Homo sapiens: one gene and its partner. The protein of the gene in region 2 interacts with the protein of the main gene of each other region in a pairwise test. Each region holds a gene or a part of one and is shown on either strand. Other genes may lie near its edges.

What was found.
Region 1: the proteins of SSX2IP (region 2) and ZNF3 interact in binary tests that used the Homo sapiens proteins (3 or more experiments, as listed by UniProt).

What each region holds. Positions count from the first base shown.
Region 1 is NC_000007.14:100,071,722-100,078,960, forward strand, and holds part of ZNF3 (zinc finger protein 3), read right to left. Parts: intron 5,713-7,239; 5' UTR 5,637-5,712; coding exon 5,582-5,636; exon of another isoform or gene 5,508-5,581; intron 5,502-5,507; exon of another isoform or gene 4,557-5,501; intron 3,910-4,556; coding exon 3,821-3,909; exon of another isoform or gene 3,706-3,820; coding exon of another isoform or gene 3,541-3,705; coding exon 3,414-3,540; intron 492-3,413; coding exon 1-491. UniProt on the Homo sapiens protein: Involved in cell differentiation and/or proliferation.
Region 2 is NC_000001.11:84,687,371-84,695,461, forward strand, and holds the start of SSX2IP (afadin- and alpha-actinin-binding protein), read right to left. Parts: upstream 3,092-8,091; 5' UTR 3,001-3,091; exon of another isoform or gene 2,682-3,000; intron 1-2,681. UniProt on the Homo sapiens protein: Belongs to an adhesion system, which plays a role in the organization of homotypic, interneuronal and heterotypic cell-cell adherens junctions (AJs).

The DNA.
Region 1 (7,239 bases), on a different chromosome or scaffold from region 2:
TTTTTCCCCAGTGTGGATTCTCTGATGCTGAATAAGGTGTGAGCTCTGGCTGAAGGCCTTCCCACACTCATTACATTCATAGGGCTTTTCCCCAGTGTGGATTCTCTGATGTTGAATAAGGTCTGAAGTTCGATTAAAGCTCTTGCTACATTCATCACACTTATGGGGTCTGTCTCCCACGGGGAGTCTCTGATGTGAGATAAGGTTGGAATTCACAGTGAAGCTGTTCCCAAAATCATTATATTTCTCGCTTCTCTCTCCCCTGGGGGTTAGCTTCTCCTCAACTGTCACTTGACCAAAATCTGGCATTTTCCTGTTCAGTCTTTCTCCAGGGGAGTTCCCCAGCGGCCTTTTCAGACTGACTTCTCGTTCATAGGCTTCTTTAAACTTGAGACCCTGAGAAATATCCTTTTGAAATCTTCCCAGTAGGACCCCATGTGATCTTGTGTCTTCAGAAATTTCTTGATCATTTTCAGTCCTGGTCTCACGATCTGACACAATAAAAAATGCAAATGTCACTTGTTCCTTAGGGAAGAAAGAGTGAAAATCACAGGACAGGATCATTGTAACGAATACTTACAGTGCCAAAAGCACATGCCTACAAAGAGGCCTGCCCCACATGTGTGCGGCTAAGGCAAAATGAGACAGCCGGGCTAAGGAGACAGGGAAGGGGCAGGGCAGAGCAAAACCAAGGAGAACAGAGCTGGAAGTGGAAAGAAAGCTGAGTGTGTGTGGAGGGGAGGACGGATCAGGCAGAGAGGCAGGGAACCAACTTTAGAAGAGGAAGGTCATATTGCTTAATGAAGTGACAAAGCCTTTAGAGAGGTCAGGGCAGTGGATATAACTGGGGACACAGTGACTGCAAGAAGGGAGAGCAAGTACAGGACAGTTGGTGAGAAAAGGGGGGAAGGGTGAGGAGAGACAGCAGCAGCGCGGGAACAAGCAAGGGGGAGGATGCTAGTGGCTGCCATGGCCCCATAAGAAGAGCAATCATGGCTGTCGTCACGCCACAAATGCCAAGCCCATGGAAACGGCAAGACAACTGAGTCCGCCTCTGGGCCCTATGCATAAAAGGCTATGCTCGCACGTAAGGCTATGCAAAGAATCTCAGTGTCTGACGTCTCTGTTTTCACTCCTTTTGAGTTTCTAAAGCCAACTCTGGGCACAGAGGATAAATGTAAAGGGTCCAGAGAGTTTGCGTTTTTAGCTTAATTGATATTTTAAAAAGTAAAGACAGGGTAATGTGTGTTAGGGACGGGAACGGCTGTTTCTCCTTCACCTGAAGAGGTACCTCTTAGGACCTCTCTGCTCTCAGTTCCTTTGAAACCCAGGCCCCTTGGCTCTTCCTCTCATTCTAGCAGAGAGATGGTGGCAGGATTCAGAAATGGGAATTCTGCTCATGGGGAGAGACATGGGACAAGGAGGTTTATCTGCTCACCCTGAGAGTCCCAGAGCTCAATTCCAGACCCCAGATCTGCCGGGGACAGAAGGGAAATGTACAGGAAGGTCTCAAATGAGAGTTAGGAAGACGTCCTGGCTCTGCTCAGGAAAATGCCCACTAAGAGTGGGGTGAGAGACAAGGAATTCTACATCCTAAAAGTTGAGAAACTAATTTATTAATCTTTCTTTTTTTGTTTTTGTTTTTGAGACAAGGTCTCACTCTATCGCCCAGGATGGAGTGCAGTGGCGTGTTCTTGGCTAACTGCAACCTCCACCTCCCAGGTTCAAGCAATTCTCCTGCCTCAGCCTCCCAAGTAGCTGGGATTACAGGCACATGCCACCACCCCCAGCTAATTTTTTTTGTATTTTTAGTAGAGATGGCGTTTCAACATGTTGGCCAGGCTGGTCTCAAACTCCTGACCTCAGTATCTGCCCGCCTCAGTCTCCCAAAGTGCTGGGATTACAGGCATGAGCCACCGCGCCTGGCCTAATTTCTTAACCTTTCTAAGTTTCTACAGAGCAGCAGGGGCACTAGGTCCTGAACAAAGCAACAGGTCCCTAGAAGTTAGAGAAGGGGAGCAGAGAAGCAGAGAAGGAGAGGACAGAGACGTGGGCAAAGAGCAGCACCTCATGTGTTCAGGGATAATCCTTCGGAAAAGTCTCTGGATTATATATTAAGTCCTGAGAATAACACGGAAAAAGTATCAGATTTGGCCAGGCGCGGTGGCTCATGCCTGTAATCTCAGCACTTTGGGAGGCCGAGGCAGGTGGATCACCTGAGGTCAGGAGTTCGAGACCAGCCTGACCAACATGGAAAAACTCCGTCTCTACTAAAAATACAAAATTAGCTGGGTGTGGTGACGCATGCCTATCATCACAGCTACTCAGGAGGCTGTGGCAGGAGAATTGCTTGAACGCAGGACGCAGAGGTTGCGGTGAGCCGAGACCACGCTATTGCACTCCAGCCTGGCAACAAGAGTGAAACTCCATCTCAAAAAAAAAAGGTACCAGATTTGGAGTTAAAGACTGGGCCCCAAGTTTTGCCACTCATCAGCCCAACTGATGACCATGCATGCACAAGACATTGAGACCGCTACTCTCACCTCCACTTTATTTACTTATTTATTTTTTGAGACAGGGTCTGTGTCACCCAGGCTGGACTGCAGTAATGCCATCTCGGCTCACTGCAACCTCGGCTTCCCAGGCTCAAGTGATCCTCCAACCTCAGCCTCCCAAGTAGCTGGGACTACAGGCATGTGCCACCATGCCTGGCTAATTTTTTGGATATTTGGTAGAGACAGGGTCTCGCCATGTTGCCCAAGCTGGTCTTGAACTCTTGACCTCAAGTGATCCTCCTGCCTCAGCTTCTCAGAGTGTTGGGATTACAGGTGTGAGCCACCTCGCCTGGACTACTTTCACTTTCCTTACCTGTAAAATGAGGAATAATACTAGCTGCCTCAATTAATGTGTTACTGTGAAGATTAAATGAAAGAATATATATGAGAACTCTTTATAAGTTGCAGACTGCTGTATAAATGAGTTAAGATTATTGTTCTTACAGTTTCCTAAGACTAAGTCAATCCTTACCTAGGCCAGGTGCAGTGGCTCATGCCTATAATCCCAGCACTTTGGGAGGCCAAGACGGGTGGATCACTTGAGGTCAGGAGTTTGAGACCAGCCTGGCCAACATGGTGAAACCCCGTCTCTACTAAAACAAAAAAAAACAAAACAAATACAAAAATTAGCCTGGTGTGGTGGTGCGTGCCTGTAGTCCCAGCTACTTGGGAGGCAGAGGTGAGAACCTGGGAACACTTGAATCTGGGAGATGGATGTTGCACTGAGCAAAGATTGTGCCATTGCACCTCAAAAAAAAAATCTGCTGAAACAGCTCTTTTCAGTGACTAGATTGTTACTAGCAAACGAAGAAGCAAAGAAACACCAGCGAGTTTTGTTGACAAGGCATAACTCCTTACCCAGTGAGAACACATTCCCGTAATTCTCCAGCATCACATCTCTATAGAGGTCCCTCTGAGCAGGTTCCAAACGCTTCCACTCCTTCCGGATGAAGTACACAGCTACATCCTCAAAGGTTACCAGCTCCTGAAACAACACGTGCTGGCATGCAATTTCAGGGTGAGGAATGTGAATGGCGGCACCAAAAAAATCACTGAGGATGGGGTGAAAAATGCACATTTGGGAAGGGAGGAAGGGAGGACAGGGTGGAGGAAGAGAGACAGGAGTCCAAGATAGAAGGTGAGGGTCCATGATTCAGCAGGACAGAACCATGGGCCTGATGGAGGAGATCAGGGTTTAAAGCTCTGAATGGGATGTCATTGCACAGAAAATGGAAAGGAAAAGGATAAACGGAACCACAGCTCACCTGGGACTTGGCCTTTAGGAGCGCAGCCGCCAACATCTCATCCCCCAGGCTGTCCTTGTCGGAAAAGGCAGGAACTTTTGAAGGAAGAGCTGAAGGGCAATAAAAGGGCCCAGGAATGAGTCCATCTGCTCTGTGACCTCCCAACCTGCTGACTTCCCAACCCACAGAAAGCTCCCGGGGTCCTGGGACAACACAGGACCCTCTCTCTCACATTTCTAAGTTTGCTTCCTCTGCAGCTAGCTACAGTGTGTCCAACAAAGGCAAACTCAGAGCGAGTCCATCCTGCCTGAGCAGATGGCCACAGGCCTGGTCATTCTTAGTCTCCAGTCTGTCCCAGGTCCCCTCTTCTCTCCAGTCACTCTTCTCTCAATGAAACCGCCCAGTCCTATCTTAGTGATTACTGCATTCTTGTCCATTCACCCAAGCTTGGCCAGAAACATATGATCCCGCTCTTGCATGAAGTTCTATTTTTTTTTTTTTTGAGGTGGGTTTTGCTATGTTGCCCAGGCTGGTCTCAAACTCCTGGGCTCAAGTGATCCTCCTGCCTCAGCCTCCCAAATAGCTGGGATTACAGTCGTGTGCCACTGCACCCAGCATGAAGTTCTTAGACCAGAGAAAAACCAGCAGCTTCACCCCAGCCCTGACTGGAAACACAATGCCCACAGCTCCTTTCTCTCCACCCCAGATCAAATCTGTACACTAAAAATGTTCCCTGTTTCTGTGTTGAATCTCTTACCTTTTTCTGCAATTCTTTTTTTTTTTTCTTTTTGAGGTGGCGTCTCACTCTGTCACCCAGGCTGGAGTGCAGTGGCGTGATCTCGGCTCACTGCAACCTCCACCTCCCGGGTTCAAGCAATTCTCCTGCCTCAGCCTCTGGAGGAGCTGGGACTACAGGTGCGTGCCACCATGCCCGGCTAATTTTTTGTATTTTTAGTAGAGATGCGGTTTCACTGTGTTGGCCAAGATGGTCTCAATTTCCTGACCTTGTGATCTGCCCGCCTCAGCCTCCCTAAGTGCTGGGATTACAGAAGTGAGCCACCGCGCTCGGCCGCAAAGTATACTTTAGTGGCTTCCTATTCACTCTGTCTTTTTGTCTATGACCCATAAAATGATTCCGAAGCGCCTCCTCTAAAAGCATGCTCCTAAAAAGCACAAACTATGCCTATGAAGTCGGCTGCATAGAATGCCCGAGAAATGGAATGATTGACACGGTTTCATTAATCTCGCGTGAGGTACTCACAACCCCTCAAAACTGCCTCAGTGGCCAGGCGCGGTGGGTCATGCCTGTAATTTCAACACTTTGGGAGGCCAAGGTGGGCACTGAGGTCAGGAGTTTAAGACCAGCCTGACCAACATGGCAAAACCCCGTCTCTACAAAAATTAGCCGGGCATGGTGACGGGCGCCTGCAGTCCCAGCTACATGGGAGGCTGAGGCAGGAGAATCACTTGAACCCAGGAGGCGGAGGTTGCAGTGAGCCGAGATTGTGCCACTGCACTCTAGCCTGAGCAACAGAGCAAGACTCCATCTCAAAAAAAACAAAACAAAACAAAACAATCTGCCTCAATTATCAAACCTATCAAGCTGTCATTGATTACTGTTCGGTCAGCTTCCCCACTAGGCTGTGAGTTACTGAATGGCGAAGAGTGTGTCTTATTCACATCTGGATTCTAGTAGTTAGCCTAGTACCTGGTAAGTGAGCGATTTCAATGGATGATTGCAGAATGACTGAGTAAAAGAATGAATGAGTCCTTATTCCTCACCACTGTCAAGCAGGGCCTGAGGTTCCTGAGATACGAGATCAGCCTGAGTTTCCATGGAAGGGCAAGGTGCTCTCTGGTCTCCTGGGTGCAGACTCAGCGGGAAGCGGGTTTTAAAAGAGAATGAGGAAGCACTGCAGAAGCAAAAGTTCAAGGTTCAAAGATAATTCAAAAAAACCTCCTGAATACAGAAAGATGGGAGCTAGTATTTCAGTGAGTACCCAGGAACAGTGAGAAGAAATGTGGCAACTGGGACTAGTCTTTTATTTTCTTTTATTTTTTAATTTTTTTTTTCCTTTTTGTGGAGAACAGGGTCTCGCTATATTGCCCAGGCAGGTCTGGAACTCCTGGGCTCAAGCTATCCTCCCACCTGTTGCCTCCCTGAGAGCTGGGATTACAGGCGTGAGCCACCGCGCCCGGTATTTTTAAATTTTCTTTATTTTTTTTAAGACGGAATTTCACTCTTGTCACCCAGGCTGGAGTGCAATGGCGCAATCTCATCTCACTGCCACCTCTGCCTCCCGGGTTCAAGCGATTCTCCTGCCTTAGCCTCCCAAGTAGCTGGGATTACAGGCACGCACCACCATGCCTGGCTAATTTTTGTATTTTTAGTAGAGGTGGGATTTCACCATGTCAGCCAGGCTGGTCTCAAACTCCTGATCTCAGGTGATCCGCCCACCCCAGCCTCCCCAAGTGCTAGGATTACAGGTGTGAGCCACCATGCCCAGCCTCAGACTAGTCTTTTAGATCCTGGTAAATATACTCCCTGAAATGAGACTATCACAAGGACCACAAAAAGGGCCCAAGTTCCTCAACAATATCCCGCCTTTGGCTGCCCCCATCACTTTGAGTAATATTTATAACAAAATGCAGGAGCGGGTATATACATTCACTGGCATAAAAAGACTACTCCCAGGCTGGGCACGGTGGCTCATGCCTGTAATCCCAGCACTTTGGGAGGCTGAGGCAGGCAAATCACGAGGTCAGGAGTTCGAGACCAGCCTGGCCAGGATGATGAAACCCCATCTCTACTAAAAATACAAAAAATTAGCTGGGCATGGTGGTGTGTGCCTGTAATCCCAGCTACTCAGGAAGCTGAAGCAGGAGAATCACTTGATCCCAGGAGGTGGAGGTTGCAGTGAGCCGAGATCACGCCACTGCACTCCAGTCTGGGCAATAGACAGAGACTCTGCCTCAAAAAAAAAAAAAAAGAAAAAGAAAAGAAAAAATACAAAAATTAGCTGGGCATGGTGTTACATGCGCCTGTAATCCCAGCTACTTGGGAGGCTGAGGCAGGAGAATCGCTTGAACCCGGGAGGCAGAGGTGGCAGTGACCCAAGATCGCACCATTGTACTCCAGCCTGGGCAACAGTGAGACTCTGTCTCAAACAAAACAAAACAAAACAAAACAAACCAACCAACCCTGGATTTGATCTACCTCTCATTATCTCTTTACTCATTTGCTCACATAGCAAATGTTTGCTGAGGGCTAACTCTATTGCCACTCACAACTGCAAGGAGTAAAAAAATCGGGAATGCAAAAAGTATGTGCTTCATAATTACAGACTGTTACACTCACATAAGGCATCAAAGGAAGAGGAATGGATAAGAGAATGTTTGAGAGAATAAAAGAAAAAAAAAGAACAAAGGAAGAGGGGTCC
Region 2 (8,091 bases):
TCTCTCATCTCAGAATCCTACATTGCTAGAGTCTGACATTTTTATGTCTGACACCCAGATTCTGTACTGCATTATAACTGTGTTATTTCTCCTACTGAACTGCAGGTTGCTTGAAAATGGGGAAGTATCTTATTTAATTTGTATCCCTATTCTTCCAGTCTTCAAAGTAGAAGATACTTAAGAAAGGTTTGTTGTATAATTATTTCTGCTTTTCTGGAGTTTCTGAGGGCTTCAGCAAAATATACTTCAAGTCTAACTGCTGTGTGGGACTGTCTTTCAGATATTATTTGCACTATACTCAATACATTTTGGATCACTCAAATTACTGATTTTGGTGGAAATATCCTTCTAAAGTAAAAATAAAATATAATTCCCCTTCATAAAACCTTCTGAAGGTTCCCTGTAACCTACTGGTCAATGTTCACAGCACTGTTCTACAGCCTTATTAATATGGCAACCCCACCCTGGTCCAACTCTACCAAGCCACCTGTAACTCAACTGTACACTGCTGCAGAATGCACCAGCTGCTTGATGAACTCCACTGCCTCTACCAGACACAGCTGAAATTCTCCTTCTTTTTGAAAGCCTTCCTATATTTGTTTTTTGTGAGGTTTTTTTGCTTCCTGCCTCACTATGCTGATAATTTCTAAAATACAAATTCCTCAAGGCAACACTCATCTTTTTATCCTCAGGTCAGGCAAGTAGCAGCTTACTAAGCGTTTAATGAATGTTTATTGAAAGAATTACTAAAGAATAATTCAGTAAATCTGCTGGTACTACATAAAACATTGGCCCACAATCAAAAGGCACAATTCTAGGATGTTTTTCATTACTACTAATGAATGGTGCATTTCTCTATTCTATCTCATCCCATAAACTCGTGAATTCAAGATAACTTGTACCTTCACTACTAGCTAACCATATCACCATTACCAAAGCCACAAAACAAACCCACATCGTATCAAAACCTCTTTGCGTCATGAGCAAATGGTGAAACCAGTAAGGCATATTCACAGCTATTGTAAAAGATATGGAAAAAATAACTTAAAAATCTTTGAAATCGATCCAATTTAAGCATGTTAAATGAATTAAAATCACACAATTTGGGGGCGGTGTCTTTTCATGCACCTAATTTCTCTAGGGGTATACTACATAAAAGGCACTCAAACGCCTACTTTATAAAACCGGTGTCACGGCCTGCTTTGGCCAAAAAGCAGACTGTCAAGTACTAGGAGATCCCAAGTATACAATTGGACACTGTGCTGGACTTGAGGTCTTTAGCAAACAATTTCAGCGTAACATTTTAGTTTTCTCATATATCTGCCTCATTATGTTTAGAACATAATGTGCTTTAACAAGTCTTGTCACAAGGCACAATGTGTTATGAGATCTCCACATTTCATCCTAGAATAACTAAGTCTTCACAGTTATCTTCAAGCTGCCTCACCCATGTTACGTAATCCATGAGCTTTTTATCTTCCCTGTACAGTTGGGGAAAGAGAAGGGAAGGAAGAGTACAAAATGACTTGGCCTAAGAGGTTCAGCCAGTCACTAAAAGAGCCTTCGTTTTAATTATCAGTTCCTAACCCTCTTCTCAAAGAACCGTTTTGTTTGAGAAACCTTCATTAACAGCAGGCAGAACAGAGTGTTAAATTAGCTATTAGCTTTCCTTACTTGTTTAGTGTGAATGAATAACCTAAGCTTCCTAAGCCTGTAGGTTGATAGTTTTAGGATAAGAGATCTGATGGATCAAGTTTTGCCGACTGGATCCAAATTCATAAATCTACCTCTAACTTCTAAATTTCAAAATAGCTTGACGTGAACTTTAAAGGCATTTCTTTCCTCTCCAAATTTCTAATTCTTTACAAATTTTATTCACTCTCCTAAATGAGTCAACTCATACCAACCTTTCTAGTTCAGGATCAAACTGTAGGATCACCAGAATTTTCTTCTACCCCACAGTAAGCCAAACCCCCATGAACCATGAAAAGGTCCATGACATCCATCACCCACAGCTAACTCTACACCTTGACTCTAATCTGAATTGTTAGAAAGCCCAGGAAGTTCAAGAAGCCTCCACCCTTACACTTCTAAATCACCTTCTTTTCTAATCCTCAACCTATTACAGCGTCCAGAAAAGAGAAATCTCAATTCTCTCAGATTCAAGAACTTTATCAGCGTTGCTAGTAATCGCAGTTTGGCATTTACAACTATGGGTCCTGAAACTGGGTAATAATCTAAAAATTCCTACATTATACGTGCAGACAGCAAATTAGTATATTCTATGTCCTGGGCCCAAGCGATATGCCTAACTGGGCAATCAGCATAGGCTCAAAAAATGTGCAGGGAGCTCACAATTCAGTTTACTGTCGTTGACTATAAAATTCTAAACCAAAGTATTTTCATGATAAAATTATAAACCAAAGTATTTTCACACATGCCTGCCTCTTGGATGATGTAAATTCTTCCCCTAGACTTTTTACTAGACCACTATCGGGGTTCTCTTCCACTGCAGCGGCCACCCAATAACTCGTTTTAAAGACTGCCTCTTGCGGCTGCACTAGCAAATCGCCAAACCCCGCATGCCCCACGGCCGCTGCTGAGACTCTGCAGCCCCAAATCGGCCATCCCCTCCTCCCCCACGTCCCCGCGCTGCTCGTCCCCCAACGCCGGGCGCCAACCTTGCTCCATCCCAGAGAGGGTTTGGGGCTCCCCGGGTCAGAGCGCTCCGCAGGCGCAGCTCCGCGAACGCCAGCGAGAGCGGTCCCGGGGCCAGCACCTACCTCCCACCTCCTCCTCCAGGAGCGGCCCGGGTCGACGCTCGCCCGCACCCTGCAACGGCCCCAACAGCCGCGCGGAGCCTCCCGCCGAACAACGGGGCGCTGAGCCAGGTGCCGGCTCTCACCTCCGCGCGCGCCCGCCCCTTGCCGGCGCCCACCCCCGCCCGCCCCTCCCTGGCGGGGCGCGTCACAATCCCCGACGCGAGGCGCTGCTGCTCACCGTCACGGCCCCCGGGAGCGGCGGGGAGTCACCGCTCGGCGTCCTAGCCCGGCTCCCGCAGCCCGAGGGCCAGCAGCGCCTCGCAGCGCCTCCCGCCCGCGGCCCCTCCTCCGCTGCGGGCTCCCGCCTTCCCCGCCCCTTGCAGCCGCCTCCCGGCCTCCGCAGGTTTCCGAGGTTCCCACCCCGCCCCCGCGCGCCGGCGCCGCAGGCCCCGCCGCCTCCCATTGGCTCCGCCAGTTGCTAGGCGATGAACAACCGTGGCCTGCATTGGTCGGGTGGGGGCCTCGGTAGTCTCCTCCTTACCTCCAAAAAAACCCGGAGAAAAAGAAGACCTTATCCCTGCGGTCCGCGCGCGCTGCGGGCGCAGCTGCGGCTGCGGCACCTGTTACGCCCAGTGATTCACCCGGCCGTTTTCTGCTCCCCGCCCCCTTCTGACGCCTGCAGCGTCCGGGGCCGGGGCTCTGTGGGGGCCGGGACTCTGCAGGGACCGGGGTCGTGGCTACTTTAGAGCACGTTTTCCGAGCCCCACTGAACCCCAACACCCAGCCTAGCAGCAAAAGTGAAGCTTCCAGGAGAGCCACGTGCGTTTGCCAAAGTGGAGAAATAAACTGCGGGCACCTAGAATTAGGTCAGGTCCAAGGAACGGGAGGTTCAAGCGTCGGGAGTCGTGGATGCAAACAATCCAGCCGGGAGAAAGTTATATGTAAAATTAGGGCGAAGAAATGGATCTGGGCAGAAGACCGCGGGCAAAGGAAAGACTAAGAAATAGCATTCGTGAACTCAGTTTATGCAAAAATGTCTTACACCCACTCGACAAAGTATGTGCGATGAAAATGTATGCCTGCTGCACCCGTGGCCAGGGTCAGGCTGTCTCCTCCCTGGTTTCATGGCAGCCTAAAATTCACTGGGGAAGAAAAGAAAAGAGGCCAGAGAAAGGAGATCAGATGGAGAAATCACAGGCATATAGGTTACACAAAGATGTTCTTTGATTTTTGTTTTGTTTAGTTTTGGTGAAGCCAAGGGATTTATTCAAAAGGCGAAAAACAGGTTTGGTGTTTTAAGGAGACTCCTGAGAGCACTTTGAAACCAAAACAGTATGAGTGAAGATGCTAACACTGAAAAACAAGAGCGGGAGGAATGTCCACCTCCCAGTTTGCATGCACGTATCCCCAATCCTGGATGAAAGATCAGGGCCAGAAGAAGCACGCCACGGTGACAACTTCAGGGCCCAACGAAATCCTCCTCTTTTCCTTTGGCCAAGCAATCAGAGGCCCGTCTAGCTGCTGTTGAGCCCAGGTGGCGTTACCATTAACAGTTACATTTTTAAAAGGTTTGAACCAAGCTTAGTTGAGCTCTGGGAAGTTTAGCTCTGACCTCAGCAACCCCGGGAAAGGAATAAGATCTGCCTGAATAAACCAGCGGTCTCAATCTTTTGGTCTCAAGACCGCTTTCCACTTGTAAAATTATTGAGAGCCCCAAGAACTTTTCTTTATGTTGGTTACAGCTATTAATATTAAAACAGAAATTTAAAAATTGCTATTTTTTAAAATAATAATGAATAAAAATAAAAATGTCAAATAGCGCATTTTAATTAAAAATAACTATTTTCAAAAAATTAGTTAAAAGAATGGTGTTACTTTAAAATTTTGCCCATATCTTTAATGTCTTGCTTAATAGAAGGCATTTGGATTTTCATATCTGTTTGTGCATTCGATCTGTTGTGCTATTTCAGGTAGCGTCTGGAAAACTCTACTGTGCACTCATAATGAGAGGGAAAAAGGCAAATAATATCTTAGTATTATAACAAAAATAGTTTTGACTTTGCAGACTCCCTGGAAGGGTCTTGGAAACTTGCCGCCCCAAGGTTCAGCAGATCTTTGAAAACCACTGGTCTAAACCTCTTTGTACTCTGTCCCTCTTTGTTAACCAATAACTGGTTAAGGGGCTAAAAATATGACCTAATTCTGCTCAGTCCATAATGGGGAGTGGGGGATGAGGAGCTTCAGGGGAAGGATTTTATCCTGACAGACTAAGGACAAGTTTTTTCCTTCTTGCCTTGGACATCCTCCAGTAAGCCAGACATGTTTGGAGCTGTGGCAGCATATTCTGCAACCACGAGAGAAAAGCAAGAAAAATACATGCGTACCTCGTTTTATACTTCAATTTATTGCACTTTACAGGCACTGTATTTTTTTTTAATAAAGGTTTGTTGCTCAACCCTGCATTGAGCAAGTCTAGTGGCACCATTTTTTCTAAGAGCATGTGTTCACTTGGTGTCTCTGTCACATTTCGGTAATTTTTGAAATATTTCAGACTTTTCCATTAAATATGTTACGGTGATCTGTGATGTCACTATTGTATTATTTTGGGGGTGCCGCAAACTGCACCCTTATAAGACAGCCAATTCAATGTATATGTTGACTGCTCCACTGACTGGCTGATCATCTCTCTCCCTCTCCTTGGGCCTCCCTACTCCCTAAGACACAGCAATATTAAAATTAGGCCAATAAATAACCCTACAATGGCCTCTAAGTGTTCAAATGAAGGGAAGAGTCACATATCTCTCACTTTAAATCAAACGCTAGAAATGATTAAGCTTAGTGAGGAAGGCATCTTGAAAGCTGAGATAGGCAGAAAGCTAGACCTATTGTTCCAGTTAGCCAAGTTATAAATGCACAGAAAAAGTTCTTGAAGGAAATTAAAAGTCCTCCTCCCTTGAACACAGGCATGAAAAGAAAGTGAAACTGCCTTATTGCTGATAAGTAGAAAGTTTGAGTGGTCTGGATAAGAGATCAAACCAGCCACAGCATTCCTTTAAGCAAAAGCCTATCCAGAGCAAGGCCCTAATTCTTCATTTCTATGAAGGCTGAGAGAAATGAGGAAGCTTCATTTAAAAAGTTTGAGGCTAGCAGAGTTTGGTTCATGAGGTTTAAGGAAAGAAGCCATCTCCGTCACATGAAAGTGCCAAGTGAAGCAGCAAGTGCCGCTGTAGAAGCTGCAGCAATTTATCTAGAAGATCTGATTGATGAAGGTGGCTACACTAAACAGATTTTCAGTGTAGACCAAAAGAAAGCCTTCTATTAGAAGAATATGCCACATAGAACTTTTCTAGCTAAAGAGGAGAAGTCCCTGCCTGGCTTCAAAGGACAGGCTGACTCTTGTTAGGGGCTAATGCAACTGCTGACTTTTTATTTTTATTTTTTATTTTTTGACACAGGGTCTCAATGTGTTGCTCAGGCTGAAGTGCAGTGGTGCGATCACGGCTCACTGCAGCCTCAAGTGATCCTCAAGCAATCCTCCCACCTTAGCCTCCCAAGTAGCTGGGGCTACAGGCACACACCACCATGCCCAGCTAATTTTTGTATTTTTTGTAGAGACAGGGTTTTACCATGTTGCCCAGGCTGGTCTCAAACTCCTGAGCTCAAATGCTCCACCTCCCTCAGCCTCCCAAAGTGCTGTAAGCCACTATGCCCGGCTCCAGCTACTGACTTTAAGTTGGAGGTAATGCTCATTTGCCATTCCAAAGATCCTAGGGCCCTTAAGAAATATCTAAATTGACTTTGCCTGTGTTCTATCAATGGAACAACAAGGCCTGGCTGACAGCACATCTGTTCACAGCATGGTTAGTGAATATTTTAAGTCCACTGTTGAGACCTATGACTCAGAAAAAAAGATTACTTTCAAAATCTCACTGCTCATTAATAATGCACCTGGTTACCCAAGAGCTTTGCCTGCTAACACAAGATCTATTCTGCAGCCCATGGATAAAGGAGTAATTTTGGCTTTTAAGTCTTATTTGAGAAATACATTTCATAAGGCTGTATCTTCCATAGATAGTGATTCCTCTGATGGAACTGGGCAAAGTAAATTGAAAACCTGGAAAGGATTCACCATTCTAGATGCCATTGAGAACATTCATGGGCACGGAAGGAGGTCAAAATATATCAACATTAAGAGGAGTTTGGAAGAAGTTGATTAAAACCCTCATATATGACTTTGAGGCGTTCAAGACTTCAGTGGAAGAAGTAACTGGAGATGTGGTAGACATAGCAATAAAACTAGAACTAGAAGTGGAGCCTGAAGATGTGACTGAATTGCTTCAATCTCAGGATAAAACTGGAACAGATGAAGAGCTACTTCTTATGGATGAACAAAGAAAGTGGTATCTTGAGGGGGAATCTACTCCTGGTGAAGATGCTGTGAACGTTGTTCAAATGACAACAAAGGATTTAGAATATTCCATAAACTTAAACTGATAAGCAGCAGGGTTTCAGAAGATTAACTCCAATTTTGAAAGAAGCTCTACTGTGGGTAAAATGCTGTCAGACAACGTTGCATGATACAAAAATATTTTGTGAAAGGAAGAGTCACTCGATGTGGCAAACTTCATTGCATTATTTTAAGAAGTTGCCACAGCCACCCCAACCCTCCGCAGCTACCATCCTGATCAGTCAGCAGCCATCAACATCAAGGCAAGACCCTCCACTAGCAAAAAGATTATAACTTGCTGAAGGCTTCAAGATTTTTTTAGATTGTTAGCATTTTTTAGCAATGAAGTATTTTTCAATTAAAATATGTACCTTGTTTTTAAAGACATAATGCTATTGCATACTAATAGACAATAGTATAGTATAAAATAACTTTTATATGGACCGGGAAGCCAAAATACTATGTGACATCCTTTATTGTGATATTTGCTTCATTGCTGTGGTCTGGAACCGAACCTGCACTACCTCTAAGGTGTGCCTGTACAGAAAAGGCAACCCCAAGCCCAGATGTTACTGAGTGGCTACATTAGCCTACCTTGGCTCTGTATATCTCTACACTGCATATCATGTGAGACAGTAAATGGCCTATTGCTTAAGCCATTGTAGGCTTAAGCCTAAGAACATTTTTAGCCCAGGGCTAAAAGAAATTGGGCTTGATAGAACTTTACTATGGTAAGTGTATTAGGCCATTCTTGCATTGCTGTAAAGACTGGGTAGTTTATGAAGAAAAGCGGTTGAATTGACTCCCGGTTCTGCAGGCTGTGCAGGAAGCATGACACTGGCATCTGCTTCTAGGGAGGCCTCAGAAATCTCCAGTCATGGC